Homo sapiens: one gene and its partners. The protein of the gene in region 7 purifies or fractionates together with the protein of the main gene of each other region. This does not show direct contact. Each region holds a gene or a part of one and is shown on either strand. Other genes may lie near its edges. The genes, in order: CASC3, SLC35E1, FARS2, HCK, ILKAP, RABL6 and CHST15.

Region 1 (3,990 bases), on a different chromosome or scaffold from region 7:
CCCGGCTGGACTGCTCAGTATAATCAGGCTCAGAATGGAAGTCCTCAGGATGGACACAAGAGGAACTTGTTGCCCAAGCAGCCAGGATGGCCAGACTCCCAGGCTAGCAGCACAAAGCTCAGGAGGATGGGTTTTGTGGCACTCCCAACATATATCCTCAGGTACTGGAAGCATATAAGCAGAGACACAAAGCTTACCTGGGTGGGGAAGGTTCATTCCTGGCTGCACAAGCATGCCCTGTGGAGGCAGCGGGGCAGGGCTGTCACCATGGGTATAGATTGGTCCCTGGAACTGCACTGTAAGATATCACATTGGGACTCTCATAAACCCTTACTCTTCACATGGACAAGTCTCCTTGTTCCCCAAGCCCTTTAAAAGATGTTCTCAATATTCCATGCGAAGAAAACAGCAACCAGACAATGTTTGATAACCACTATAAGAGGTCAGAAGAGAAATTCAGGAGCCAGGAGCCTGGTATCTTACTTCACTTCACCCTGCCAAGAAAAGTACCCCAACAGTAAGAAAAAACTCACGTGGATCATAGTAATGTCCCTCCATGATACTGATATGCACTGGAGGGGCGGGGGGCTCTGGCACAGGTCTTTGCCGCTGGGATGAATAGCGTTTGGCTCGACCACCCTGGACACCCTGAGACAAAGAAAGAGGCCTAAACAATAAGAATTCTAGAGGGCTCTCATATCAAGTCCTACCTTCCTTTAGGTGTTGAAAAACACTTGGTACATGGCAGGTATTTAATGGATATTTGCAAAGTGAGCTGAAAAATAATGAAAAGATATCAAGATTTGAACCTAAACCTTCTACCTTACATTTAGGAGATCCAAATTAAAAGAAACATGCATAATCAATGGAAAAACTGACTTTATCTTGGCCGGGCGTGGTGGCTCATGCCTGTAATCCCAATACTTTGGGAGGCCAGGGTGGGTGGATCATGAGGTCAGGAGTCAGGACCAGCCTGGCCAACATGGTGAAACCCTGTCTTTACTAAAAATACAAAAATTAGCTGGGCATGATGGCACGTGCCTGTAATGCCAGCTACTCGGGAGGCTGAGGCAGAATTGCTTGAACTGGGACCCAGGAGGCAGAGCTTGCAGTGAGCCGTGATCCCGTCACTGCACTCTAGCCTGGGCAACAGAGCGAGACTCTGTCTCAAAAAAAAAGAAAGAAAGAAAAGAAAAAAAAAAAAGACCTTATCTTGGTTTAAACAATGAACAAGCTGTGTAACAGGCAGCTCCCTCCCCCATCTACCCCTTTCCCCTTCTGTACCATTTCTTCCATCCGGTTAAACTGAGGTGGAGGTCCTGCTCCCATGTGTATATGGTTGGGCATACCTGTAATACACCAAAAAAGTCACTTCTGCAGATCAGACATACGTGAGTGGGACTCAAAGATACTATCAAGAGACAGGTTTAAGTGTCAACATAAGGAATGCCTTTTTTCTTTTAACTAATAAAATTCTCTATAAACTATCTCTGCTTTCTGTCAACACCAGCATTTAGAAATTTGTCCCCACTGTCTGCCATCTTAATATAGCAATAAAGCCCTTGAAAATGAAAAATAAAATGACTTCAGTGAAGAAAATCAAATTCAAATTTTTTCCTATCAAATTGTTCCCTGCATAGAATCCCTGAGAGATTATAATTAGCACATTACATTATCCAACATATTGAAAAATCTCAGCCCAAGAGTTTCTGAGCAACAGCTGGACAAGGGAGGGATGCTTTGTAAATCTACTTGATTATATCCATTCACAGGGGTCTGGGTTGGAAGTTTGAAAGGAGATTCTCCTCTGGCTAAAATGACTCAAGACAAAAAGGAATGTTCTAGAGATTGTCCTCCAATAGTAAGAAGGGTGCTGCAACTCCAATTGAGGAGTTCCAATATTTAAGTTAGATTTCAGACTAAGGGAAGATCCTTTGATCTATCTGGCTGGAGAAAAACAAACCACAATAGGCAAAATGGGTAATAGGTAGGTCTTACTCTCTAAAACTATGCTGCCCAATATGATATCCACTAACCAAATGTGGACACTTAAGTTTCAATTAATTAAAAGTTCAATTCCGGCTGGATGCAGTGGCTCATGCTTATAAGCCCAGCACTCTGGGTGGCAGAGGTAAGACTGCTTGAGCCCAGGAGTTCAAGACCAGCCTGGAAAACACAGTGAGACCCCCCGTCTTTTCAAAAAATAAAAAAAATCAGCCAGGTGTAATGATGTGTGCTTATGATCTTAGCTACTGAGGAGGCTGAGATGGGAGGATTGCTTGAGCCCTGGAGGCGGAGGTTGCAGTGAGCCAAGGTCACGCTACTGCACTCCAGACTCTAGCCTGGGTGACAAAGTGGGACCCATCTAAAAAAAAAAAAAAACAAAAAAAAAAACTATATCTATGTAAACACAACAACAACAAAAACACAAAAGTACAATCATTACACAAAGTTCTATTGGGCAATCTGTCTCTAGAAGATTAAGGAAATAAGGGAGGCTTGCCTTTCAAATATATTAGAGAAGATCTTGATCAAAATTCAACTGAATAAATTTCTGCCTTCAAATATTTAACCATTAGTTCAAATAATAACGTTGTCTTCTTCTACTTTTTGTGGAAAATGATCCTGTACTCAGGAGGCTCAATGATGACCGGGCAGGTGCAGTGTCTTCCATCTGTAATCCCAGCGCTTTAGGAGGATCTCTTGAGCCCAGGAGTTCAAGATTAGCCTGGGCAATATAGCAAGACCCATCACTACAAAAAATTTTTTAAAAATTAGCTGGGGCTGGCACAGTGGCTCACGCCTGTAATCCCAGCACTCTGGGAGGCCAAGATGGGTCGATCACTTAAGGTCAGGAGTTCGAGACCAGCCTGGCCAACATAATGAAACCCCATCTCTATGAAAAATACAAAAATTAGGTGTGGGCCAGGCACGGTGGCTCATGCCTGTAATCCCAGCACTCTGGGAGGCCAAGGTGGGCGGATCACGAGGTCAGGAGATCGAGACCATCCTGGCTAACACGGTGAAACCGTCTCTACTAAAAATACAAAAAAAAAAACTAGCCAGTCGCGGTGGTGGGCGCCTGTAGTCCCAGCTATTCAGGAGGCTGAGGCAGGAGAATGGCGTGAACCCAGGAGGCAGAGCTTGCAGTGAGCCGAGATCACACCACTGCACTCCAGCCTGGGCAACAGTGAGACTCTGTCTCAAAAAAAAAAAAAAAAAATTAGCCAGGTGTGGTGGTGAGAGCCTGTAATCCCAGCTACTCAGGAGGCTGAGGCAGGAGAATTGTTTGAGCCCTGGACGCAGAGGTTGTAGTGAGCCAAGATCGTGCCACTGCACTCCAGCCTGGGCAACAGAGCAAGTCTCTGTCACAAAAAAAAAAAAAAAAAAAAAAAGGCCAGGCACGGTGGCTGTGGCTCACACCTGTAATCCCGGCACTTTGGGAAGCCAAGGTGGGAGGATCACAAGGTCAAGAGATCAAGACCATCCTGGCCAACATGGTGAAACCCGGTCTCTACTAAAAATACAAAAATTAGCCCAGCGTGGTAGTGCACGCCTATACTCCCAGCTACTCGGGAGGCTGAGGCAGGAGAATCACTTGAACCCGGAGGTGGACATTACAGTGAGCCGAGATCGTGCCACTGCATCTAGCTTAGGCAACAGAGCAAGACTCCATCTCAAAACAAATAAATAAATAAAAATACAAAAAAAAAAATTAGCTGGGCGTGGTGGTGTGCGCCTGTAACCCCAGCTACTCAGGAGGCTGAGGCAGGAGAATCACTTGAACCTGGGAGGCGAAGGTTGCAGTGAGCCAAAATCGCGCCACTGCACTCCAGCCTGGGCAAAAGAGTGAGACTCTGTCTCAAAAAAAAAGAAGTAGACATTTGTCAGACACCACCTTCCTGAGACAGAAGTCCCATGCCCCTAAACCTGATGATGCAAAGGGGAAAAAGCTAGCCACCAATCCTATGATACCTACCTCGAAGTTCC
Region 2 (3,990 bases), on a different chromosome or scaffold from region 7:
AGTGGCACCATCTCGGCTCACTGCAACCGCCACATCCTGGGTTCAAGCAATTCTTCTGCCTCAGCCTCCCAAGTAGCTGGGACTACAGGTGCGAGCCACCATGCCTGGCTAATTTTTGTATTTTTGGGAGAAACAGGGTGTCACCATATTGGCCAGGCTGGTCTCAAACTCCTGACCTCGTGATCCGCCCGCCTTGGCCTCCCAGAGTGCTGGGATTACAGGCGTGAGCCACTGCGCCCGGCTTTTTTTTTTTTTTTTTTTTTTTTTGGCCAGTGCATAGTTTTCAAAGTTCCAGGGCTGGCAAGGCACAGTGGCTCACATCTGTAATCCCAGCACTTTGGGAGGCCAAGGCAGATCTCTTAACGCCAGGAGTTCAGGACCAGCCTGGGCAACATAGTGAGACCCTGTCTCTCCAAAAACAGTAAAAAAACAAAAATCAAACAAAAAAAAATTAGCCAGGCATGGTGGTATTCGCCTGCAGTCCCAGTTACTCGGGAGGCTGTGGGAGGATCGCTTGAGCCCCGGATTGAGGTCAAGGCTGCAGTGAGCCATGATTGTGCCACTGCACTCCAGCCCTGGCAACAGAGCGAGGTTCTGTCTCTAAAAAATAAACATTTAAAATAAAAAATGAGTAAAAATAAAAAGTCAATGTGCTATCTGGACTATACTGTCAGGAGGTGAAAGAGTCACCTTCTCTTCCTTGACGCTACTGGCGCACACACAGCAGCTATCAGCACCTGGGATCAAGCACACCAGAGAAGGAAATACACAGGAAACCCACTTCCTCGATGGCGTGCATCGTCACCGTGAGGCATTACAGAGGACTGACTGCTGAAAGCGCTGGCTGTCAGGTGCCCAAAAGATACCACAATGTTAACATGCAGCTACAGCTCCTCAACAAAGCACCTATTCTGGAACTAGCCAAGAAAATGGCGTGTTCTTGGTGCTGTACAACTCACCAAGTCGCTGCTGACCAGGAAAGCCGAGAGGTCCACCAGAACCCAGGTGGGGATCATAAAGAAGACGGCGTGGCAGCCCAGGATGTTGAGCAGCCGGAGATGGTGGATCCGTGAATCTCGCAAGACCTGGAAAGGGAAAGCCTCTTTAGAGGGTGATTAAAACTATATGTGGCAAAAAGGGCTCCAGTGACTCAGGCCCCAAACACAGTGACTGGACATTAACCCTGACATCTGAGCTTGGACACCAAACCTGCAAGTGCATTTGTGAGGACATACACAGCACAGGCCTGAAACAAGCACCATGCTCCACGCATAAACGACTGAGAAAAGAAAACAAAAATAAAACAGTAACACTCAGTGCTGGTGAGGATGAAGTGAAGTAGGCACTCTGAAATTCCACTGGTTTGAGGCTGAATTGGTATAACCTTTCTAAAATACGACCAGACAAACCATATTAAGAGTGATTAACGTTTCATACCCTCTAACCTGAGAACTGTAAGCCTATCATAATGAAATAACTGAGACAGGAAAACATCACACACGTGATTGTTTCTACATTACAATGAAAAGTTGGAAATAAGTGGTATTTCCAATAGAGAGACTGCATTAACTGTGGTACCTGAAAAGTGTGTGATTATCACAGGAGTTAAGAGCAATTTTTTTTTTTGAGACGGGGTCTCACTCTATTCCTATTGCCTAGGCTGGTCTCGAACTCCTAGCCTCAAGTGATCCTCCTGCCTTGGCCTCCCAAAGTGCTGGGATTATAGATGTGAGCCACTGCACTAGGCTTCAACAAGTTTTAAAATCTTGTTTTAAATTGAAGTTTTTAGCTAGGCCTGGTGGCTAATGCCTGTAATCCCAGTGCTTTATGAGGCTGAGGTGTGAGGATCACTTGAGCTTCGAAGACTGAGGCTGCAGTAAGCTATGATTGTGCCACTGCACTCCAGCCTGGGCGACAGTGAGCCTTGGTCTCAATAAAAGAGCTTTTCTTTATTTTTTTCTTATTGAGCACATTAACTTTATAATAGAAAAACTTTTTTTTGTTTTTGAGATGGAGACTCACTCTTGCCCAGGTTGGAGTGCAGTGATGCAAAATCTCAGCTCACTGCAAGCCCCGCTTCCTGGGTTCAAGCAATTCTTGTGCCTCAGTGTCTGGAGTAGCTGGGATTACAGATGCGTGCCTGGCTAATTTTTATGTTTTTAGTAGAGATGGGGTTTTGCCATATTGGTCAGGCTGGTGTTGAACTCCTGGCCTCAAGTGAACCGCCCGCCTTGGCCTCCCAAAGTGCTGGGATTATAGGCATGAGCCACTGCGCCCGGCCAGAAAAACAAACTATTTAAAAAGCAAAATGACAAACAGAAAATCAGCAGAATGGCAATCAAGATTTTTCTGCTCTAATAGCAAAGAAATTTCTACTCCGCCTGTTTTCCCAATGCCACCAGTTTGCTGCCCGCACACCCCTGAAACCCCATGCATGTCCGCTGATGGTGACCAAATACCTTTTTGGAGAAAATGTTCTGAAGCGAGAAGCACAGCGTGGCGGCGAGGGCGCTGACGAGTCCCCACATGTCAAAAGACAACTCGGTGACGGTGGCCAGCAGGACACCGCTGATGATGGGGATGAGTGACAAGTATACCTGCAGGAAGAGGTCATCAAGAAGGGCTCACAGGCCAGACTAGAGCTGGGCCACATGCCACAGATGCCCAGGGAAGAGCCCCTCTCCTCCCTCAGCAAAGGGATACCACCTAACACTTTGAAAGTGGTGTTTGCTGTGCCAGTGACGCTCTGGTGGGTGGCTGGGGGCAGGTGGTTATCAGAGCGCCAGGGGCAGGGCTTATTTGTGGGTAGCCCCATCCCCATACCGTCACCCCCATTAAGAGCCTCTGCTCAGGGCCACAGCCCGGGGCTGGTCCTAACTCCACAGATCTGTTCAGCTGCCACTGACGCACCAGGGTTTGAAGCCCTGATCCTCTATAAGGCTCCCCCATTCCCTCTTTTTAAAAAATAGTTTTTTTGAGACAAAGTCTCGCTCTGTCGCCCAGGCTGGAGTGTAGTGGCACAATCGTGGCTCACTGCAACCTCTGCTTCCCGGGTTCAAGCGATTCTCCTGCCTCAGACTCCCCAGTAGCTGGGATTACAGGGATGTGCCACCACGCCCGGCCAATTTTTTTGTACTTTTAGTAGAGACAGGATTTCGCCATGTTAGCCAGGCTAGTCTTGAACGCCTGATCCACGTCATCCATCCACCTTGGCCTCCCAAAGTACTGGGATTACAGGTGTGAGCCACTGTGCCCAGCCCCCATTCCCTCTTACTTCAGGCTCTTCCAGTATGGTTACTCCTGGCTGGCACACTCCACTGATGCCTTCTCCTCCCAGTGACCTCCTGCCTCCACAAGGAGTGCTTTCTCCAACCCACCTCCACCTTGGGAGGCTCCTGTGCTGTGCTCCCAGGGCCACTGCCTGGACTTCCCCAGCAGAGAGCTCTCCACTCACTCTTTTTTTTTTTTTTTGAGACGGAGTCTCGCTCTGTCACCAGGATGGAATGCAGTGGCATGATCTCGGCTCACTGCAACCTCTGCCTCCCAGGTTCAACCGATTCTTCTGCCTCAGCTTTCTGAGTAGCTGGGACTACAGGTGCCTACCACCACGCCCAACTAATTTTTGTATTTTTAGTAAAGATGGGGTTTTGCCATGTTGGCCAGGATGGTCTCGATCTCTTGACCTCGTGATCTGCCCACCTTGGCCTCCCAAAGTGCTGGGATTACAAGCGTGGGCCACCGTGCCCAGCCTCTCCACCCACTCTGTCTGTTACATCATCCGGTCCCGTTAGTGTACCTTAGAGCAGGTCCTTGTTCACTGCTTTATCCTGGTGCCTAGCACTCAGTAGGCACTCAATAGCTGCTAGCTGAATGAACGAGTAGCAAACATAGTGACAGAGAGCCTTCTAGAAGGTCTGGCATGCAGGGCTAAACAACTCCCAACTTCCAGGATCCACCAGGATCCATTCCCGCGTGTCCAGCTCTTCTGAC
Region 3 (4,061 bases), on a different chromosome or scaffold from region 7:
TATTCTTCCCTAAAGGTCGCCTTCTGGAAGTGGAGGCTGCCTGCTGGGAAAACTTGAAGGGAGTTTGAGGACCTGGCCCCTCTGTGTGCCTCCAAGACTCTGGGGCAGCTCTCGCCCCTTTCCTTCCTCTCCAGTGGGGCAGAAGGCAGCTAAGCCCAAGTCCTGGGGCCAGAGGCCTGACTCCAAGCCATGGGTTTATGAAAAGCAAATAGATATCCTGCCCTGGCTGAAAGACGCACCTCCCTTCACATTGGACGAGAGCCCTGGCATTTCATTAGTGCCCTCTTTGAAGCCTGCCCTTTGCAAAACTGAAAAAGAAGAGAAGGGAGGAAGGAATGGAAGCTGATTCAAAAAGCTTCCTGTATTGTATCTGGAATTTCTGATGTCCCTCTGTGTGGCTTCACTCATTACCTGAGTGGAAGAGCCTGTCAGGCAAGAAATCATGCCTGGTGCTTAATGGAACCCAGGGACCAATTAACCATACTAAGCACCAATGCCAGTGGGCAAAGCACTTCTAAAAGGAATAGGAAAAGACCTTCCTCCTTTCCCCAAATAAAAGACAAATGCTATGTCAACAGCTTTTCAAGAGCGATCTTTTATTTTCTGAAAGTCCTAAAACTGATCCATTTATCAAAAGATGATTGATGCCCCAGTTCACAAACCATATCTTTTTCTCTTTCAGCAAATCCTGGAGCCCCAAGAGGGCTGCAGCCTGAGTGAAGTGGTGACATCAGAACCTGCCCTCCACACCCAACAGCTGGACTGCAGCCTCCTGCAAGGCCTGGTGGATGTGCCTGACCTCTCTCTGGGACAGAGTCCGTTCCATGTGGCGGTACGTGATGCGGTAGCAGTGGCTGGTCTTGTGCGTCCTACAGAGAGGAAGAGAACACAGGTGAGTGCGGGATGAACAAGGCTGTGCCTGAAGGAGCAGTGTGGCTTGCCCTGGCCAGATCTCCCCAACTGCAGTGGAGAACTGAGGTTGGAATCCAGGTACCATTTACCGCTAACAATCTGCATCTTATACAGGGGGAGAAGGTGACAGTCAGGGAAACATTCGCTTGACTAAAGGAGGCTGCTGGTTTCCACTGGGGTGGATGTATCAAAGTCCCCTGGGAAGGAAGCTGACAAATTTGATTTCCCAGGCCACGCTCTGGAGATTTGGATTCAGCAGGTGGGAGGTGGGACCTGGGCTTCTAAGCCTGTCCCCGGTTCCCGACGTGATTCTAACAAGCAGACAGGGTCAGGGGTCAACCCGCGTGTGCCTCCTTCATGTCATGGAAGGTAACCGTGTTTGTGAGGCAAACTGAAGTATCAGCAAGGCTCCAGGCAAGGCTGAGGGACTCACTCCCTCGGCACCCCTGTTGGCTGTCCAGGAAGCATACAGGCCATATATGCCGTGTATGTGCTGTGTAGAGAATTACTTTAGTCTCTCCTTTATGACATTGGTGTTGACTTGGCTTGCATAGAACAGCTGAGTAATTCTGGAATACGTGGAGATGACAGCAGTAGGGCCTTCTATTTGCATGGCAGGTGCTAAGACACACTGGTCAGTTGATCTCATGAGAAAGACCCCTGGGCCATGAACTGGCAGGCCTGGCCCTGTCCCCAACATGTCTCTCACTGGCTGTGTGGCTGGGTGTCTGACATCTCACCATCTCTGAATGCTCACATTTCTCTTCTTCTATACAATAAGGGGATCTGGTCACACAAATTCCTCTTTTCCAACCCCCAGCAGCAGCAGCAGCAGCAGCAGCAGCAACAACAACAGAGGCAACCCAATCCCTTCTTGGCCTTGGGGGAGGAAACTGAAACAAATTGAGGGCTCCCAGGCAGATTCCTTTTATGATGCCGTCAACCAGCCCTTAGCCTAGCCAGGGAGAGGCCACGTGCTTTCTGGCAGGTGAGACAGGGCTGGGCCTTCAGTAATACCAGGGCCTTGAACAAATGGGCTTCTGATTGAGCTGGACCTAGGCCACTCCCACATATTCACTGGAAACTGGTAGTCCCATTGATGCCACCTGAGTCCAGAGCCTTTGCTTCCAGGGTCCTCCCGACACTTCATGGATTGGTCTCACTGGATTCTCTCCTCTTTCCTCTCCCTCTCCCTCATCTGAATGCCAGAGCCCTTGGCTGGGCAGAATATGCCTGGTGCATGAGAGTCTGCCTTGGTCCTGGCCTCCCTAGTCTGCCCCTTCACCTCCCCTTCCAGTGTCTCCTCCCCTCTCTCCCACCCTGGCTTGGTCATCTTTGTCCTGCTTTTGTCCTTCCACTTTCAGGGAAGATAAGCTGCTATGCTGTGCCTCACAGGGTTATGTGCATTTTGGCCACATATGCAGCCCCCGTTTGGATCAAGCCACAGGAGGAAGTTACCACTGAAGGGCTGTGATAAACAAGCTGGGCTGGGGGTGGAAGTTTTCTGTAGGGACCTCCTGGGGATTCCCGATAGCACATGGAGGCCTGCCCCATTCCCTCACCCAATGTCAGCTGCCTGCTTTAGACCAAGGGAGAAATCAAATCCTCTCCCCACCTGGCTCTTTCTTTTTCAGTCCAGCTCAGGCCAATGGCTCTGCTCTGTGGACATTCCTCTGGGGTGGGGACCCTGACTCCTGGGGGAGGCACTGCTGCCCAAACTGCCCCAAGGACCTCCCACAAAGTAGAGTGGTCTTTTCTCCTCACTTTGTGCTCCGAACAACAGTACTCCAGGTACCATGCCCACCCAAGCCTTTCAGGCACCAAAACGCAGCGAGACAGAAAAACCTGGCTTTGAGAGGAAAACAGAGGCTCTCCAGGAGTGGGAGCTTATGAAACTACATAGCCAAGACCCCTGCTGCCACCAAGTGCTGACCCATTCCATTCAAACTACAATTGCTCCATTTACAGTTATTTGGTTTTTGACAAGAGCACCAAGACTATCCAAGGGGGAAATGTCTTTTCAACAATTGATACTGAGACAACTGGATATCCACATGCAAAAGAATGAAGCTGAATCCCTACCTCACACCACACACACACAAACTAACTCAAAATATATCATATATCTCAATATAAGAGCTGAAACTATTATCACTCTTAGAAGAAAACAGATGAGTAAATATTCATGACCGCATAGGCAAAACCTCCTTAGATGACACCAAAAGCACAGGTGAAAAAATTAAAAAAAATGATAAACTTGGAATTCATCAAAATTAGGCATTTTTTTTAATTCAAGGCATACAATCAAGAAAGTCAAAAAGGAACACACAGAATGGGAGAAGATATTTGCAAGTCATATACCTGATAAGGGATTTGTATCTAGAATATACAAAGAACTCTTACAACTCAACGATAAAATAGCCAACAACATAGTAAAACAAATGTACCAAAGATCTGAATAGACATTTCTGCAAAGATAAACAAATGGCCAACAAGCACATGAAAAAATGTTCAACTTCAGCCATCAGGGAAATGCAAATCAAAACCACCATGAGATACCACTTCAGGCCCATTAGGATGCTCATTTTAAAAACAAAAGGAAAATAACAAGTATTGGAGAAGATATGGAGAAATCAGGGCCTGTTTAGAAATTGACAGGACTCTGCAAATTATAAAGTGCTAATTGGGTGTGAGGTGAAAGTATCATTGTGGCAATTATTATCACATTGTGTTTTTTCACTGTTTCACTCTGGTCCCTCCTAGCAGAAGAGCTGGTAATATGGCACCTCTAAAAGTTATTGCCAATTGAAGATGGATGGGGAAAAATCTGTTTTCCTATTTCTATGTGCTCAGAAAAAGGCCTCTATAAGGATTCTTGGGATTCAAACAACTTATACAGAGCATTTTGATGAATTAGGTGTAAATGATTCATAAATACATGGATTATGAGATAAATACTCATAATATATAGATATGAGAGAAATACTATTTAGCAGAATGTTTGTTTGGTGATTCTGTTGAATTCAATAGAATCAAGTGAAAGTCAACCAGGTTTGCCTTTTCCTAACATGAATGATGACAGAGAAGGCTTCATTTTCTAGAAACTTCTGTGTGTAGCTTTCAGATGACAGGACATACTCCTGTCTTCC
Region 4 (3,990 bases), on a different chromosome or scaffold from region 7:
TTGAGCTGTGACCTCGGCCTTCGGTCTTGGATGTACCGGGGGATGCTGCTTGACCCCTCCCCTCAACACACAGTGAAGGGGTCGGTCCAGATCAGTGTTTTCCGACTAAGTTTGGAGAAATCACAGGCCCACCAGTGATTTATATTCCATAAATAAAGGCTCTGTTATGTATGTGAAACAATCTAAGTGTCCATGCAAGGGGGAAGTGACACCTAAACTATGGCATTCTAAGCAGCTCTTTTTTTTTTTTTTTTTTTTTTTTTTTAAAGAGACAGGGTCTCCCTGTATTGCCCAGGCTGGAGTGCAGTGGCGTGATCATAGCTCATGCAGTTCGAACTCCTGGGCTCAAGTAATCCTCCTGCCTCAGCCTCCCAAAATGCTGGGAGTACAAGTGTGAGCCACTGCACCTGGCCTGTGTTTTTATTTTCAAGAAGAATGTATTTGTGTGTCACACAATAGGATTATTGTGAGGATTAGGGTGTTAATAACCGTAAAGGCTTACAACAGTGCTGGGTTCATAGTCAGCTTTGTATAAACATAAAAGAAGTTGGTAAATACCTCTCCTAGCATGACTGCTTCTCTTTTTACAACTCTTGCTGTTGTTCCTGCTGCTACTCTTGGTCTTATACTCACGCAATTATGGTTGGTACTATTAGTATGACAATTGTTACTGTATTTTTGCAATGCTGCTGATACTACCATTACATTGTCACTTCAGCTGCTATCATTACTGTTCACTCGTTTCTCAGCACTGCTTTTGCTTCTGCCCAGGCCGGAGGCCTGAGATGCTCACTCACACCTGTTTGGTGGAGCTCAGGCTGAGGGGCCAAGCCTGGGCTGCAGGAAAGAGAGATGACTTCTTTGCCCCTATGCATGCTGGCTGGCGCTGCGTCCCGGAGAGTCGAGTCAGGACACTGTTGGTGGCCAGTCAGCTCCCTTTCACCCCAAGCTCACCCTGCCCAACCTTGGGAAGACAGGAGGCTGTTAGGGCAATGTTGGGGCAGCATCCGTCAGCCCCCAGGGAAACTGGGACCTCCCCTACTCACCGGCTTGATGGTGGATGTGGGATCCGGCACGTACACAGGACAGTGTGGGCTGGCGCTGGTTTCAGTTTTTGAGAATGTATTGCCTCCGACCTGGAGGAACTTGGACTTCATGCACCCCATCCTGCAGCAGACAGAAGGGAGGTGAGCCCCAGTTACCAAGAGCCTCATGCGGGGAAGTCTTCTGATGCTGGCATTCCAGGTCCCCTGCCCCCGGGCTGGCTCCCACTGGCCTTCCCGGTCTTAACTCCCCTGCCAGCTCCATGCACCCTTATCCTCCCCACATGGAACCCACTCCATCCTTGCCACCTCTGGGCTTCCCCATGTCCACGTGCCACAGCACTGGCCCAGGGCTGACAAGCTGTCATTGTCGTGGGTACCAAGGACCAGCGTGATGGATGTTTATTCAGAGGATGGCATGAGGATAACAGAAATGTAACAGGTAGAGCTGTTGGGTGGGCACTGCCAGCTCTCAGGTCAGAAAGCCTCAGCTGATCCTTGGCCCCTCCACCCCACCAGCACCTCACTGACCACTTTCCTGCCCCTACCCACCTCTCAGGTCTTCATCGGCAAAATGGGGACAATAATATGACCTACAGTGGGGAAATACTCAGTGCAGTGTCAGGCTCAGAGCAAACACTACAGAAAAACTGCAGTATTATCAGATGATAAATTGCCATTTTTATATTAAATAACAAGATGAGGTCACATAACATGGCTCAAACAATCTAGTTTGTCAAGGCACCGTATTACTGGTATCAATTTATAAATTGCTTATAACTCCTTCCCTCCCTCCCTCCCTCCCTTCCTTCCTGCTCCCCCTCCTCTTCCTTCCCCCTCCTCCTCCTTCCCCTCCTCCTCCTTCCCCCTCCTCTGTCCTCCCTCCTCCTCCTCTTTCTTCGTCTTCTTCCTCTTCCTCTTCCTCCTCTCTTTCTCTCTGTCTCTCTCTGAGTTGTTTGGTAATTCATTCATCCATTTACACAGCCAAGATTTACTGGGCACTTTTCTAAACTGTGAAGAAGAGAAGCAAGTTCACGCCCTCAGGACCTCAACTGCAGCCGAATGGGAGACAGAGACAATAAACAGGCCAACAAATAAATAACAGGGCAAATTGAGTTAATGAAAAGTGTGAGGACAATAAGAGAGGATGCTGTGGGGAACAACAGGTCTGGCTCTTTTAGGCAGGGCATTTGGGGAAGGCCTGTCAGAGAAAGGGATACAGAACCTGCGGTCTAAATGACACAAAGGAGCCAGTGAGGGGACACTCTGAGGGAAGAGTGTTCCAGGCAGAGGGAACAGCAAATGCAAAGGCCCTGAGGCTGGCATGTGCTTAGAGAGAAGTTGGAGGCACTGAAAGCAGGAGAGTGTAGCTGAAGCTCATGGGCAGGGAAGAGGGTGGTTGTGACAAGGCCACCATATCCTGTAGGGCCAGTAAGGACTTTGGATTTTATTCTAAGGATGATGGAAAGTTTCTGGCAGGAGAATGATGGGATTCAATTTGCACTTTAAATAATCCCACCGGTGGCTGAGTGAGGCGTGGACAGTGGGGAGCAGGGGAGGGAACCCTGTGAGAAATCTGCCAAAATTGTTCAGGTATGAGATGATGGTGGCCCAGGGTAGTGTGGGGGCAGAGAGGAGGTAAGCATTGGACAGGTTTGGGGGACATTTTGGAGGTAGAGCTTGCAGACTTTGCTGCTGTATTGAATTAATTTAAGGATGCTTAAACAAAACACATTTACTCCAAGTAGAGTCAAAACATAATTGTAAAAGTGGAAGAAATGTTTCATTTCTTTTCTCAAAATGTGCACACACATTTGCTGAGAAGGCAGGCTGTGACAACCACATAAGGAAGTGCTTGCTTTTCTCATCTCTGCACAATTGCCATTTTCTTCTAAAGCAGTTAGAACTCAGTTATACTTATCTTGTTAAAATAAACATGTATTTGTGGTTTAAGGAAAAAAACCCCAAACTCCTAGGCTTAGATGAGTTACTTTTAAAAATGAAAAAAGATTCCTTTTATTTACAAGGATTTACCTCTTCTGGTGGGAACTGGGAAAGATTTGCCACCTCAAGACTTGAGCGGTTTTGCTTTGTTTGTCTTTTGGAAATAAAATAAGGAACACATTCAGACTCTTGGAGTGCTGGATCATTAATTTGAAAAATTATCATAATTAAGCACAGATTTATAATGTACTTGCATGCATTTAAAACTGAAACCAGCATCTCTCTTTGAGATAAATGTGTATTACAGTTCTGGGAAATTAAACGGGCATCTTGTGTGACATATATGACATAAAATTATATCACATTTCGTGTGTTTTGGTCAGCATAAAGATGTTCTGGGAAGAGCAGCACTGTGTGAGGTAGGGCAGCTCACTCTACCTCTCTGGGCACCCACTGATCTGCAGCTGTGAGTCTTGTGATTTCCAATCCATGCGCGTTGAGCACCTTGTATGCTTCACTTACGTGATCAATGTACATATTCAAGATGGCCACAGGGTCCCGAGGGAGGGGTCTCAGAAGACCTGTGTTCATTCACAATCCAAGGCCATCTCTGAGAAAGGGTGGCAAGGGTTCTACCTCATAGGGTGGTGGTGAGCACTGAGCAAGTTGATGAGTGTAAAAGTGCCCAGCATGCAGTAAGCGCTGCAGAAACATTAACCACAACTATTTCTGTTTACTGGCAGACGTGACACTGCCCCGGATCATGAAGCAAGCACAGTTTGCAATTCCTCTGGCCCACAAGCCTAGAGATACTGCAACACTGGAGAAGTTCGCTTTTTTTAAAATAGGGAATTCCCATGAGTTCCATTTTTGCACAATAAAGTGTGATTTGTTTTCTCAGAGACAGTCTCGCTCTGTCACCCAGGCTGGAGTGCAGTGGTGTAATCATAGCTTACTGCAACCTCGACCTCCCAGGATCAAGTGATCCTCCCACCTCAGCCTC
Region 5 (3,990 bases), on a different chromosome or scaffold from region 7:
GGGTCTACAGCCCTGAAGATTGAGAATTCTTATATAAGATGACTGGAGTACTTTTCCTAAAATATAGAAAATATACCTGCATACGAAATGGGATTACCTGCATTCCCCACTGCCCCCACACCATCTATCTCCCAACCTCTCCTAACCCTCACCTTCCCCAACCAGAGGAGCTCTACCTAAGAAGTTCTCATGAGACAGAATCATACCTTTGCCGCAATGGCAACAGGAATCTGCTCTATTCTTCCCTTCTACTTAATTAGGACATGAAAAGGAACATTTTCAGGAGGAGGTAGAGCCAATGCTACTAGCCTCGATACATTTGAGTCAAGCACTCTGTTTAACAAGGCAAATCGGAATAATGAACTCTGAATTTTTAAAAAATGTTAATAACAAAGTTAAGAGTAAATTAGTGAACTCTTAATTCTTAAAGGCAGTTCCAACAATCTGAACCTCAAGAAGTTAATATCACCAGAAAGTGATACAGTATTATCTTTGTGCTTCCAATTAATGTGCCTGTTTATAGTTTTAGTAAACCTTATGCTGTATTATGACTTAATGTCATCCAAAATCCCGTTAAAACCTATACATAAATTTCACATAAGAGTAAAATACTATGTATTATTTCCATCAGCACCTTGGATTTTTCCTACCACTTACCTGAATCGCCACTGCTAGCGGGTGGGAGATCATCAAAAAGCAAAGGTCCCCCTGATCCTGAAACACAGCAGAACACTTAGTGAGCCCACAAAAAATATGTAAGACTTAAGTTTCAGAATCCATCCCACCAGGACACCTATGTAGGTTACTGAAATAAACTCAAAACTTTGCGTCAATCCAGTGGCAACTCATACTGCAATGAATAATATCTTGAACCTATTTTAAAGTCCTATTATTTCAAAGGAAATAAAAATCTGCCTTAAAAAGTTAAATTGTACTTCAGGTAGTAAAATAAATACTCAAATGAACCAGAGAAAACTGCTCCACATTTCCTCGCAGTACTTCTCAGGGCTAGCGACTAGCAGATTTTTCTGCCTTACCTGATGCCATGGATTCAAAACTTAAAGACAGTCCAACACCTAAAACATCTGTGTGTTGAAAATGGGGGAAAGGGAAAAAGATTGAGACAACTACAATCCCAGGATGAGTAGAGACGTTGACACACACCTGGGAGAGCCTGAAGACTGTACCTGAGTCAGTACTGCTGGCCGGAGGGAGGTCATCAAAGAGCAGGGGTCCTTTCTGAGCTTCTTTCCCTAAAACACAGAAAACCTGTTTAGAGAGCATATGGTCATCACCCAGGACAGATTTTCAAAGAGGAAGATCATGTGGTCTCCCCTGCTTTGACACAAGTTTGCTATTAGATTCTAATTTTCTCCTTCCTGTTGGGCAAATTTTTAAAACATATTTTCTTAACAGCTTTTTTAATATGGACATCTGTTTCCAACAGTTACAGTCAACATAAAAGCAATGATTGATGCCCTAACAGGCATCTTCAGGGCCACTGAATATTTTGAGGAAAACAAGTATTTTCTTGATAATTTCATTATTGAAAGCATGAAACATTTAAAAGTCTTTCTTTAAAATAGAATCCTGGGAAGAAAAAAACTGATTCTAGACCAGGAAAACAATACTTGAGACTTCCTGATAGACGTTCAGAAATTTGGGGTGGGGTGGAGGAGGGGCCTTCAAAGACCTACAGGTTTATAAAAATCCTATTTCGGTAACATTCTGCAAGGGAAGAAAATCTGTTGGAACCTGGTGTCCCTAGCCCCAGCACAGTGTCTGATTCAATAAATAGCTATGGAGAAAATAAAGGAGTTTCAGGTAACCAAAGACAGATAGCCTCAGGAGAAAGTCACGAAACTCTTTTAACAAAAAATGTGAAGATTTACACTCCAAAAGTATGTCTTAAATGTTTTATGCCCAATTATCTTTTTCCACATAAAATTTAACGACCATTCCTTATTTTCCAGCTTTTTCCTGAAATTCTGTTTAAGCTATTAGATATCTGAACTGGCACACAAGAATCCAAGTTGAAAGTATACACGTTCACCTCCTGCAAAGTTCAACACACCAACCAAACACACCAGCTCTATCCCACCTCTTGCTCCTCAGAGTTCAAGTATAAAAACGTGCTCATTTACGCCAGGCGCAGTGGCTCATGCCTATAAACCCAGCACTTCGGTAGGCTGAGGTGGGAGGATTGCTTGAGTCCCGGAGTTCGAGACCAGCCTGGACAACATGGCAAAAAAATGTCTATGAAAAAAATACAAAAATTAGCCAGGTGTGGTGGCAGGCGCCTGTAGTCCAAGCTACTCAGTAGGCTGAGGTGGGAGGATCACCTGAGCCCAGGGAGGCCAAGGCTTCAGTGAGCCATGATTGGGCCACTGCACTCCAGCCTAGGCAACACAGTGAGACTCTGTCACAAAAAAAAAAAAAAAAAAAGTACTCACTTAAAAACCAATTCACTTTTTTTTTTTTTTTTTTTTTTTTTGAGACTGAGTCTCACTCTGTTGCCCAGGCTGGAGTGCAGTAATGTGATCTTCGCTCACTGCCTCCACCTCCCGGGTTCAAGCTATTCTCCTGCCCCAGCCTCCTGAGTAGGTGAGATCACAGGCGCACACCACCATGCCCAAATAATTTTTGTATTTTTAGTAGAGACATGGTCTCACCATATTGACCAGGCTAGTCTTGAACTCCTGACCTCAAGTGTTCTGCCTGCCTCAGCCTCCCAAAGCGCTGGGATTACAGGGGTGAGCCACCATGTCTGGTCTAATTTTTGTATTTTTAGTAGAGACGGGGTTTCACCATGTTGGCCAGGTTGGTCTCAAACTCCTGGCCTCAAGTGGTCCACCCGCCTCAGCCTCCCAAAGTGCTGGGATTACAGGTATGAGCTATTGTGCCAGGCCAAACACCAATTCAACTAAACAAATAAATTTATATCCCCCAAGAGGGTCATCCCTATCATCTTTTTGCCTCCATTTAGAAATGAGCTGGGTATCAACTTTCTTCTTTTAAAAACAAAAGCTTTAATTAAAAATTTATAAACTTAAGGGAATGAAATTTCTCCCGGGGTCTTTGCGTCAGAAGTACCTAAAATACACAAGAAATTCCTGAGTTAACAAAAAATAACTATTTTGCTTTATATCCCTAATACAAATGGGAAAATGTATTCTAATCCTTCAGGATGACCCTAAACAAATTAAGGAATTGCAAATACTTTCACTTTTCTTACAAGTGACATAAAGACTCTATTAGAAGTATACAAGAAGCAGAAGAAAGCCATTAAAAAGTATTTAGTATGGCCAGGTGTGGTGGCTCACACCTATAATCCCAGCACTTTGGGAGGTCAAGGTCAGGACTGAGGTCAGCAGTTCAAGATGAGCCTGACCAACATGGTGAAACCCTGTCTCTCCAGAAATACAAAAATTAGCTAGGCATGGTGGCGGGTGCCTGTAGCCCCAGCTACTTGGGAGGCTGAAGCAGGAAAACTGCTTGAACCTGGGAGGCGGAGGTTGCGGTGAGCTGAGATAGCGCCACTGCACTCCAGCCTGGGGGACAAAACCAGACTCTGTCCCCAGCACCCAAAAAAAGTATTTAGGATAACCATTACTCAATGTATTAATCCACTTACAAGAATTCCTAATATCCCGAAGTAGGTCACTTTTGCCCAAACATTGGGTCTAACAATCACAACGCCCGTTCTCCGGACAGACTCAAAAACCACATGAGATGTTCCAGACAATCACGCTGCATTCAGTGGTGTCACAGAGCCAGATGTCTTAGGACAAGGGAGGGGACATTTACAGGTAACAGCCCAACATGAAGAGCAAACAACCCTTCCGCTTGTACCAGGTCATATTTTAACTTTTGAATTAACTTGCCCATCTAAATCAGGTCTTTCCACTGCCACTGTACAAGGGAGGAAGTCTTCTTTTACCCAGGTAATAAATATATTTTCAGTTCTTGTAAGCATTCCTCACAATGCAA
Region 6 (3,990 bases), on a different chromosome or scaffold from region 7:
GACCAGCAATGTGATCAAGACAGAGTCGAGGGTTTTGGGGGTGAGAGTTTCTGGGAACTGCTGCGGGTTTCCAGGAGTCTGGGCTCTCCTCCTGGGCCCTGCATTTGCTCGGAGTTGCTAGTGGTCCCGGTAGACGTGTGGGACACCCACTGGTTTTAGAATAAAAACTCGAATGAGACATTGGACCATAATGGATGAAAAAGTCAAACTCTGTCAAATATTTGAAGAGATTTATTTTTGAGCTGAATATGAGTGACCATGGCTCGTGACATAGCCCTCAGGTGACCCTGAGGACATGTGCCCAAGGTGGAGGGCACAGCTTGGTTTTATACATTTTAGACATGAGACAGTAATCAAATACATTTAAGATATATGTTGATTTGGTCCACAAAGGCGGGACAACTTGAAGTGGGGGCTTCCAGGTCGGAGGTAGTTTAAAAAAATTGTGTTTTTTTGCCGGGCGCGGTGGCTCACGCCTGTAATCTCAGCACATTGAGAGGCCGAGGCAGGCGGACAACCTGAGGCCAGGAGTTCAAGACCAGCCTGGCCAACATGTCGAAACCCCGTCTCTACTAAAACTATAAAAATTAACCGGGTGTGATGGTGGGTGCCTGTAATCCCAGCTACTCAGGAGGCTGAGGCGGGAGAATCGCTTGAGCCCAAGTGGCAGAAGTTACAGTGAGCTGAGATTGTGCCACTGCACTCCAGCCTGGGTGACAGAGTCAGACCCTGTCTCAAAAAAAAAAAAAAAAACAATTGCACCACCACACCCAGCTAATTTTGGTATTTTTTAGAGAGACAGGGTTTCACCACGTTGCCCAGCTGGGCTCAGACCCCTCTACTCAAGCAGTCCGAACCCCTTGGCCTCCCAAAGTGCTGGGATTACAGGCGTGAGCCACCGCGCCTGGCCAGATTATGTTTCTTATCAGACTTAAAGTCAGTGTTGATGTTAAATGCTGGTGAGCTTTTCCTGAATTCCAGAAGGGAGGAGGCCACAATGAGGCCTGTCTGACTCCCCTCTTCCCATAATGGCCTGAACCAGTCTTTCAGATGAAATTTGGATGGCCCTGGCCTAGAAGAGGAAGTCCATTCAGATGGTTGGCAGGCCTTGGGATTTTAATTTTGGTTTACACAATTTTGAAATTATTTGCATATAAAATTATTAGGAAAATTATTTGAAATTATTTGGAAGAAAGATTGTTGCCTGAGTTGGTCTGTCCCTTTCTACTGTGACTGGACACAAAATATCAGTTGTATTTGGTGCAGAATTTTTCTGTGGAGTTGCTCCTGAGTGAGCATTATTGTGCAGCTCTGATACTGGCCTGGCCCAGGAGCTCGGACAACCAGAGTCCTCTCTGAGTAGACACTGGTGCGAATTTAGAAATGGGACTTAGCAGGCCGGGCACGGTGGCTCACACCTGTAATCCCAGCACTTTGGGAGGCTGAGGTGGGCGGATTACATGAGGTCAGGAGTTCAAGACCAACCTGGCCAACATGATGAAACTCATCTCTACTGAAAATATGAAAATTAGCCAGGTGTGGTGGCGTATGCCTGTAATCCCAGCTACTCGGGAGGCTGAGGCAGGAGAATCGCTTGAACCCGGGAGGCAGAGGTTGCCGTGAGCCAAGATCACACCACTGCGCTCCAGCCTGGGCGACAGAGTGAGACTTCGTCTTAAAAAAAAAAGAAAAGAAAGAAAAGTTTATATGAATATCCAGTCAAAACAAACAAGGAAGGTATTACCCTTGAAATGTTGTCTATACGAATTTCCAAGGAGACCACAGGACTGTAGACTGTCTTGGAATGTCCTCAGAGAGCTCTGTCATTGATCAGGTAACGGAATAAAAACCCCAGCGTCCTTTCTTTCAAATGGGAGAGGGAAAGACAAAGGGACAGAAGCCGTTCAAACTTTGTCTTCTTTCCTTGTGGCTTGTGGTCACCTCTGCCTCCCCAGAAGCTGCCTCGCCCACCAAAGCCTTCCTGGCTTCTGCCACCACCTCATCCTCCAAAGCTTCCTCTACCTCCATCACAACCCCAAAGCCACCTTCGCCCTTAGGTTTGGCCCAGTCCAAGTTACCTTTGTTTCCCTCAATTTCACCATCTTCCGCGGCCTCCTTGGCGCTTTTGGCATCCTCCTCACTGTTGCCATCTACAGAGCCAAAGCCTTTGGGGCACCCGGTTTCCTGGTTGGTGACTACCCTTGCCCAACAAAGCTGTCGAATGACTAAAGCCTCTTCAGTGGTGTCCTCAGACAGGCCTTTGACAGACAGTTTTAGATGGCTGGCTCCTGGCATCAGGTGGTCCTTGCAACTCCAGCCTGATTGCCCTGCCCCCAGTTTCCCTTTTATTACAGGAATTTAAAGCTGCTTTATCATCTTCAAATGAAGCGAACTGTAAGTGCATGCACACCCTTTAGATTTGCCATTTTGGTTCTGGGGCACTTTGATAAAAGTTGCCTTGTCTCAGATTCTTTCTGAAGAGTTTCTTCTGTTGCACTGTAGGAGAGGTTGCTTAAACCAGAGTTTTTGATTCACCCCTCCAAGTGGTCTCTCTAGTCTTGATTTAGACCTTTCTCTCCATGATAGTGCAGGGAAATAGATCGGCCATCCATCTCTGTTCCCTGCGTTTCTTCAGAAGTTTTCTCTGCATTAGCTTCTGTCTTAACCTCAATATAAGCAGTCCCTTTACTCTTCCCATCCTTGCTGACTAATCCAATCTCCACAGCATCTTCAAACACTTTTTTGTTTTTTGAGCCAGAGTCTCGCTCTGTTGCCCAGGCTGGAGTGCAGTGGCCGTGATCTCAGCTCACTGCAAGCTCCACCTCCCAAGTTTGCGCCATTTTCCTGCCTCAGCCTCCCGAGTAGCTGGGACTACAGGCACCCGTCACCACACCCAGCTAATTTTTTGTATTTTTAGTAGAGACAGGGTTTCACCGTGTTAGCCAGGATGGTCTTGATCTCCTGACCTCGTGATCTGCCTGCCTTGGCCTCCCAAAGTGCTGGGATTACAGGTGTGAGCCACTGCGCCACTGCGCCCAGCCAAAACACTTGTAATTCATCCTGAGTGACTTTGTAAGGGAGATTTGTAGCCAAAAGTATTCTCACATCTTGCTCTTTCTTACTGTCTTTTCCTTTTGGTTTCTCTAGTTTAATTTCATTGCCAAAGTCTTTCAAACCAGCGAGTTCCAAGGCTCTTTCCAGGTCTTCAGCAGCTTGAAAATCCACATAGTCAGATTTCCTTGTCATACCCATTCTGACATCCACAACAGCAAGATCATTTTTAGCAAAAATATCATGGATACTAGTTTTTGTTTTTCTTTCTTTTTCGAGACAGGGTCTTGCTCTGTTACCCAGGCTGGAGTGCAATGGTGCTCACTGCAGCTTCCACCTCCCGGGTTCAAGTGATTCTCCTGCCTCAGCCTCCCCAGTAGCTGGGACTACAGGCACGCACCACTACGCCCGGCTAATTTTTGTATTTTTAGTAGAGACAGGGTTTCATTATGTTGGCCAGGCTGGTCTCAAACTCCTGACCTTGTGATCTGTCCACCTCAGCCTCCCAAAGTGCTGGGATTACAGGCGTGAGCCACCAGGCCTGGCCCATGGATACTAGTTTTTAACTCAGGAGCAGACTTGTTAAAGTTCAGGTTTCCAACAAAGATTGAAAGACGTTCCAGCCTGGCCAACATGGTGAAACCCCGTCTCTACTAAAAATACAAAAATTAGCCGGGTGGTAGTGGTACACGCCTGTAATCCCAGCTACTCAGGAGGCTGAAGCAGGAGAATCACTTGAGCCTGGCAGGTGAAGGTTGCAGTGAGCCAAGATTGCGCCACTGCAGTCCAACCTGGGCGAGAGAGTGAGACCCTGTCTTAAAAAAAAAAAAAAGGCACAGTTGGTTCTGTGCTTCTCACTCTCCACTTTGTGTTTCTTGGCTTCAGAAGCTGCTGTTTGGTCATTTCCTTCATTTTCCAGGTGCTTCTTTGACAGACCCT
Region 7 (3,990 bases):
AGGCGCCTGCCATCACACCCAGCTGATTTTTTGTATTTTTAGTAGGGACAGGGTTTCACTGTGTTGGCCAGGCTGGTCTCGAACTCCAGACCTCAGGTGATCCACCCACCTCAGCCTCCCAAAGTGCTGGGATTACGGGCGTGAGCCACCACGCCCAGCCGCCATCCATACTTCCAAACGCTCCCAGACCTTCAGCCACATACTACCCTGCAAAAACTGTGCTCCCTTATAGCAGGGTCTGTTGCAAATGCGCCTTCTCCACTGCCCTCCCCTCTAATTGAGGTCATGATATGAGGAGCAGCATTTCTTAGGGACAGGCCCAGAAGCTATCCACCTCCGTAGCCCACCTTGGCACATCGGGTGCCTCTGACACAGCCCTCTAGAATTCATCCACGGCCAATGTCCACAGAGGACACCTCTTGGAAGTCTTGAGCAGTTTGAGATCTACCCACAGAGTTCCTAGAATCAAAACACCCACCGGAACAGGAGTGTTCCATCTACCACAGCCTGGCCAGCCAAACTGTCCAAAGAGACAGTCAGCAAAGGGGCTCGGTGGCCACTGAGTAGATTTCCCCAGATCCACACTCGCCTGAGAATATTCCCCAAGACAACACCACATCAGCTTATTACTGGTGTCCCCAACATCACCTGTGCTATTTTCCTTCTTCAGAATTAGAAGACACATCAAAACTGAAACACGGCATCTGTCGCCATAGGGTCGCTCATGGTTACTATGACCTAAATGGCTGGTCAATAAGTGCCAAAATCAGACACGCGTGAACCTTCAAGCAAGGTTTGGCTGTGTGCACTGAGGGGTGCCAGGTGGCAATTGGTCTGAGGGGTACCCTTCCTGGCTCACACATTTCCTATGAGTCCTGTCAATAATATGGCTCAGCCCAAGAAACTACGTCAATGAAAAGTAACAGATGCTTCTGAAACTGTCATAAAATCCCACGTTAAATAAGTATTCGAAGCCCAGTTTTTACCAAAGATGCCCACAGAACTACCCAAATTGTTTGGTGGAACTGGAATTCCATCACATAAATTACCTCACACAAACCCAAACACTGGCTGAAGGTTTCCATACTGAGAATTTTCTTTGTGGTAATAACATTTCTTGCAGATATTTGGCTCATAAATAAAACAAAAGCACCTAAGCTTGTCTTGATTTTAAATACAAAGTCACTTCATGAGGAATCTGCTGATTCCATACAATTCTTCAGAGATCAAGAAGTAATCCCTAGGAAAAACTGGGACATACCTACTGTTCCAACCAGGCAAGCCCACCCCTAGCAGGTGAAACGGCTGATTTTCATCTGTTTGAGGTGGGTTAAAGTGAACTCACTACCTCACTTCCTGTGAGTCACATGTACAGCCTTTGAGAGCCAGGCCACGCTCCTTCCTCGGCTGGATGAAAAGAGACTCCTTTGGCCTCTCAGTCACCTCTGGGTACTTTGGATCTGCTCAGAGAACTGGCAGTGGGCTTTGGGAGCCCCTCGAACCCCACTGCGAGAAACTATGCTGGGTCCCTGGCATCCTGCTGTGTCACAGACATCTGAACAGGGACTAGATTCACCACAAGCCATGGCCACCATCTGGATTCCGTAGTTGGATGGATAGTGGACACCAAAGAATTATGTCCAAGTCTGAAGCCCAGCCCCTGTGAATGTGACCTTTCTTGGAAATAGGGTCTTTGCAGATGTCATTAAGTGTAGGATCTTAAGACGAGATCCTCCTGGATTTACGGTGGTCCCAAATCCAATGGCAGGTGTCCTTATAAAAAGAGGAGAGGACAGACAGCACCACAGAAAGACGGAGACAGAGCCTGGAGTGCGGCGTCTATGAGCCAAGGAACGCCAAGGACTGCTGGAGGCCACCAAGAGCTGGGAGCAGGGGACGGCTTTTATCCCTTAGGGCCACCAGAGGGAACCAACCCTGCAGACATCTTGATTTAGGACTTCTGGCCTCCAGAATCATAAGAGACTACATTTCTGTTGTTTTAAGAAGCCAAGTTTGTGGTGATTTATTATGACTGCCCTAGGAAACCAGACAGATTTTAAACCCCAATTCTAAGGAAGACCAATTACTCCAAGGAGTTATTTTTGCCAATACTTCTCTGCCACCCTGAGACCCTGGAACAGTGGCCCTGAGGGTAGGGGAGGACTGGGGTCATGTGGCCACATTTCCCAGAAGGAAGCATGAAGGAAGGCAAATGCGGACAGGAGCACTTCCCTTCAGGGGAGCACTCAGACAGGGGAGCACTGAGACGGGGGAGCACTCTTTGGGTTCTCCCCAAGAATTAAGCGAATGCTTCCTAAGATTGTCTTCAAGTAACAAAGCTATCATTTCCCCCTTGACTACTCTCCAGGGGAAAAGAGTGAGTTAATAATCTTGGGTGGGGGAAAGCCACTCGGATAGGTTAAAGCCACTCAGAAAATGCTGAGAACAGCAAACATATCAAGAACAAGTATCCACTGGACGTCAAAAGGCCAGACAGGCACACTGTGGAACAAGATGAAACGTACAGAAACAAACTGAAATGTCTACCTTTTAGTCTTCAAAATCCACTATCCCATGAGGAAGTGGGGGAAGGAGACCAATGTAATGGAAAACACACAGCTCACGATCAATCATCACAGAACTGCAGGGGCACGGATGCAACCCCAGGATGCATTAACAGGGGCACGGCATGAGGAATGTGGGAGGGTGGAGCCAGGCGACAGGCAGCTCACGGCCTCAGCGGATGCTTGCTTTCAGTGCTGGGCACCAAACCTGGCTGCTCTCCCTGGAGATGCAAAAACTCAGCAGGAAGGAGCCCAGTCCCGAACTCCTGAAGGACTGACCAGCGGGCAGAAGGTTCGGGAAGAAAGCCTGGTTGCAGGCAAGGGGAAATACCTCCAGTCAGGGCAGGCTAACACGAGGGGATGGTCCTAGAAGGCAGGAGCAGCCTAGGCTGGAGGGAAGGAGGGCTCCAGGATAGCGTGGGGGCCAGGGGACATCATACCCTCCCAGCCCTGAGTTTCAGGGCTGCCCAGCCCCCTCCAGCTGAGCCACCTCATTTTCTTACTCTCAAACCATCCCGAACAGATGGGTATTACATTTGGCCAGGACTGTTTCCAACGACAATTCCAAATATAAGTCCAAATGCATTCCAGGCCTTCTGTGCTGCGGTTATTTTAGAAGGCTGTCGGCGCGGCCCCTCACACTGGGCCCGTGCTCATGGGGTACTGCTCAGCCCCTTTCCTGTGCAGTGCAGGGGTCCTGGGACCCCTGGAGGAGCGGTGGGATGGGAAATGTATGTTAGGGGGCATAGGGCTCCATCAATCCAGTGCCTCTGAAAGTGACCATGTCTCTCCCCAAGGGACAAAGGAGAGGCCAGCAGTGGCAAGGCCCTACTATGTAAAATCTGGATGATTACAGCCAAGACCACTGCTGGATTCATTCAGGGACACTTACAGCCAAGACCACTGCTGGATTCATTCAGGGACACTTACAGCGTGCTGTTCTGAGCCAGCGAGCAGAGGTTGGTGAGTTGATCACTATTAAAGCAGGAGCTGCTGCTGCTCCTCCCGCCAGGGCTCTGTGTGATTGCTTTCCGGGTTTAGTACCTGCAATGTTCTCAGTTTCCACTCCTGATGTGGATGCTGGGGGGTAGGGAGGGCCACCACCACCATGCCCTGTACAGGGTGCTGCATGCATGCTCTGCGTCTATCTTCACAACCCCATAATGAGATGTGGGCCACCCCATTTTACTGGGGGAGAAGGCTGACACTAGAGAGGTTAAGGAGTTTGCCCATGGTCACGCAGCCCAGGAAGCTCCAGGGCAGGGCTGGGACCCAAACAAACCCAGGCCTGCCTGACCCCAAAGCGCCTCACCCAGCTGGATGTGGCCCCTGCCCTCCGAGCTTAGGCAAGGAGACGAATCCACGGCTGACTAGAGTGGGTGCTGGCCGTCTGCACTGATAGTTTTCGGGTTTTGTTTGTTTAGGT

The links.
Region 1: the proteins of CHST15 (region 7) and CASC3 purify together in Homo sapiens (affinity purification with mass spectrometry; one large-scale study listed by BioGRID and IntAct). This does not show direct contact.
Region 2: the proteins of CHST15 (region 7) and SLC35E1 purify together in Homo sapiens (affinity purification with mass spectrometry; one large-scale study listed by BioGRID and IntAct). This does not show direct contact.
Region 3: the proteins of CHST15 (region 7) and FARS2 purify together in Homo sapiens (affinity purification with mass spectrometry; one large-scale study listed by BioGRID and IntAct). This does not show direct contact.
Region 4: the proteins of CHST15 (region 7) and HCK purify together in Homo sapiens (affinity purification with western blotting, with the first as the bait; one study listed by BioGRID). This does not show direct contact.
Region 5: the proteins of CHST15 (region 7) and ILKAP purify together in Homo sapiens (affinity purification with mass spectrometry; one large-scale study listed by BioGRID and IntAct). This does not show direct contact.
Region 6: the proteins of CHST15 (region 7) and RABL6 purify together in Homo sapiens (affinity purification with mass spectrometry; one large-scale study listed by BioGRID and IntAct). This does not show direct contact.

Annotation. Positions count from the first base shown.
Region 1 is NC_000017.11:40,164,156-40,168,145, reverse strand, and holds part of CASC3 (protein CASC3), read right to left. Parts: coding exon 3,980-3,990; intron 1,350-3,979; coding exon 1,285-1,349; intron 776-1,284; coding exon of another isoform or gene 707-775; exon of another isoform or gene 649-706; coding exon 534-648; intron 297-533; coding exon 198-296; intron 1-197. UniProt on the Homo sapiens protein: Required for pre-mRNA splicing as component of the spliceosome. Core component of the splicing-dependent multiprotein exon junction complex (EJC) deposited at splice junctions on mRNAs.
Region 2 is NC_000019.10:16,565,573-16,569,562, forward strand, and holds part of SLC35E1 (solute carrier family 35 member E1), read right to left. Parts: intron 2,598-3,990; coding exon 2,460-2,597; intron 1,086-2,459; coding exon 960-1,085; intron 1-959. UniProt on the Homo sapiens protein: Putative transporter.
Region 3 is NC_000006.12:5,768,099-5,772,159, reverse strand, and holds the end of FARS2 (phenylalanine--tRNA ligase, mitochondrial), read right to left. Parts: intron 870-4,061; coding exon 731-869; 3' UTR 577-730; downstream 1-576. UniProt on the Homo sapiens protein: Is responsible for the charging of tRNA(Phe) with phenylalanine in mitochondrial translation.
Region 4 is NC_000020.11:32,068,839-32,072,828, reverse strand, and holds part of HCK (tyrosine-protein kinase HCK), read right to left. Parts: intron 3,142-3,990; exon of another isoform or gene 3,078-3,141; intron 1,168-3,077; coding exon 1,047-1,167; intron 1-1,046. UniProt on the Homo sapiens protein: Non-receptor tyrosine-protein kinase found in hematopoietic cells that transmits signals from cell surface receptors and plays an important role in the regulation of innate immune responses, including neutrophil, monocyte, macrophage and mast cell functions, phagocytosis, cell survival and proliferation, cell adhesion and migration.
Region 5 is NC_000002.12:238,193,618-238,197,607, forward strand, and holds part of ILKAP (integrin-linked kinase-associated serine/threonine phosphatase 2C), read right to left. Parts: intron 1,254-3,990; coding exon 1,188-1,253; exon of another isoform or gene 1,165-1,187; intron 715-1,164; coding exon 658-714; intron 1-657. UniProt on the Homo sapiens protein: Protein phosphatase that may play a role in regulation of cell cycle progression via dephosphorylation of its substrates whose appropriate phosphorylation states might be crucial for cell proliferation.
Region 6 is NC_000009.12:136,810,882-136,814,871, forward strand, and holds part of RABL6 (rab-like protein 6), read left to right. Parts: intron 1-1,706; exon of another isoform or gene 1,707-2,745; intron 2,746-3,052; exon of another isoform or gene 3,053-3,294; intron 3,295-3,601; exon of another isoform or gene 3,602-3,669; intron 3,670-3,888; exon of another isoform or gene 3,889-3,990. UniProt on the Homo sapiens protein: May enhance cellular proliferation. May reduce growth inhibitory activity of CDKN2A.
Region 7 is NC_000010.11:124,023,985-124,027,974, forward strand, and holds part of CHST15 (carbohydrate sulfotransferase 15), read right to left. Parts: intron 1-3,990. UniProt on the Homo sapiens protein: Sulfotransferase that transfers sulfate from 3'-phosphoadenosine 5'-phosphosulfate (PAPS) to the C-6 hydroxyl group of the GalNAc 4-sulfate residue of chondroitin sulfate A and forms chondroitin sulfate E containing GlcA-GalNAc(4,6-SO(4)) repeating units.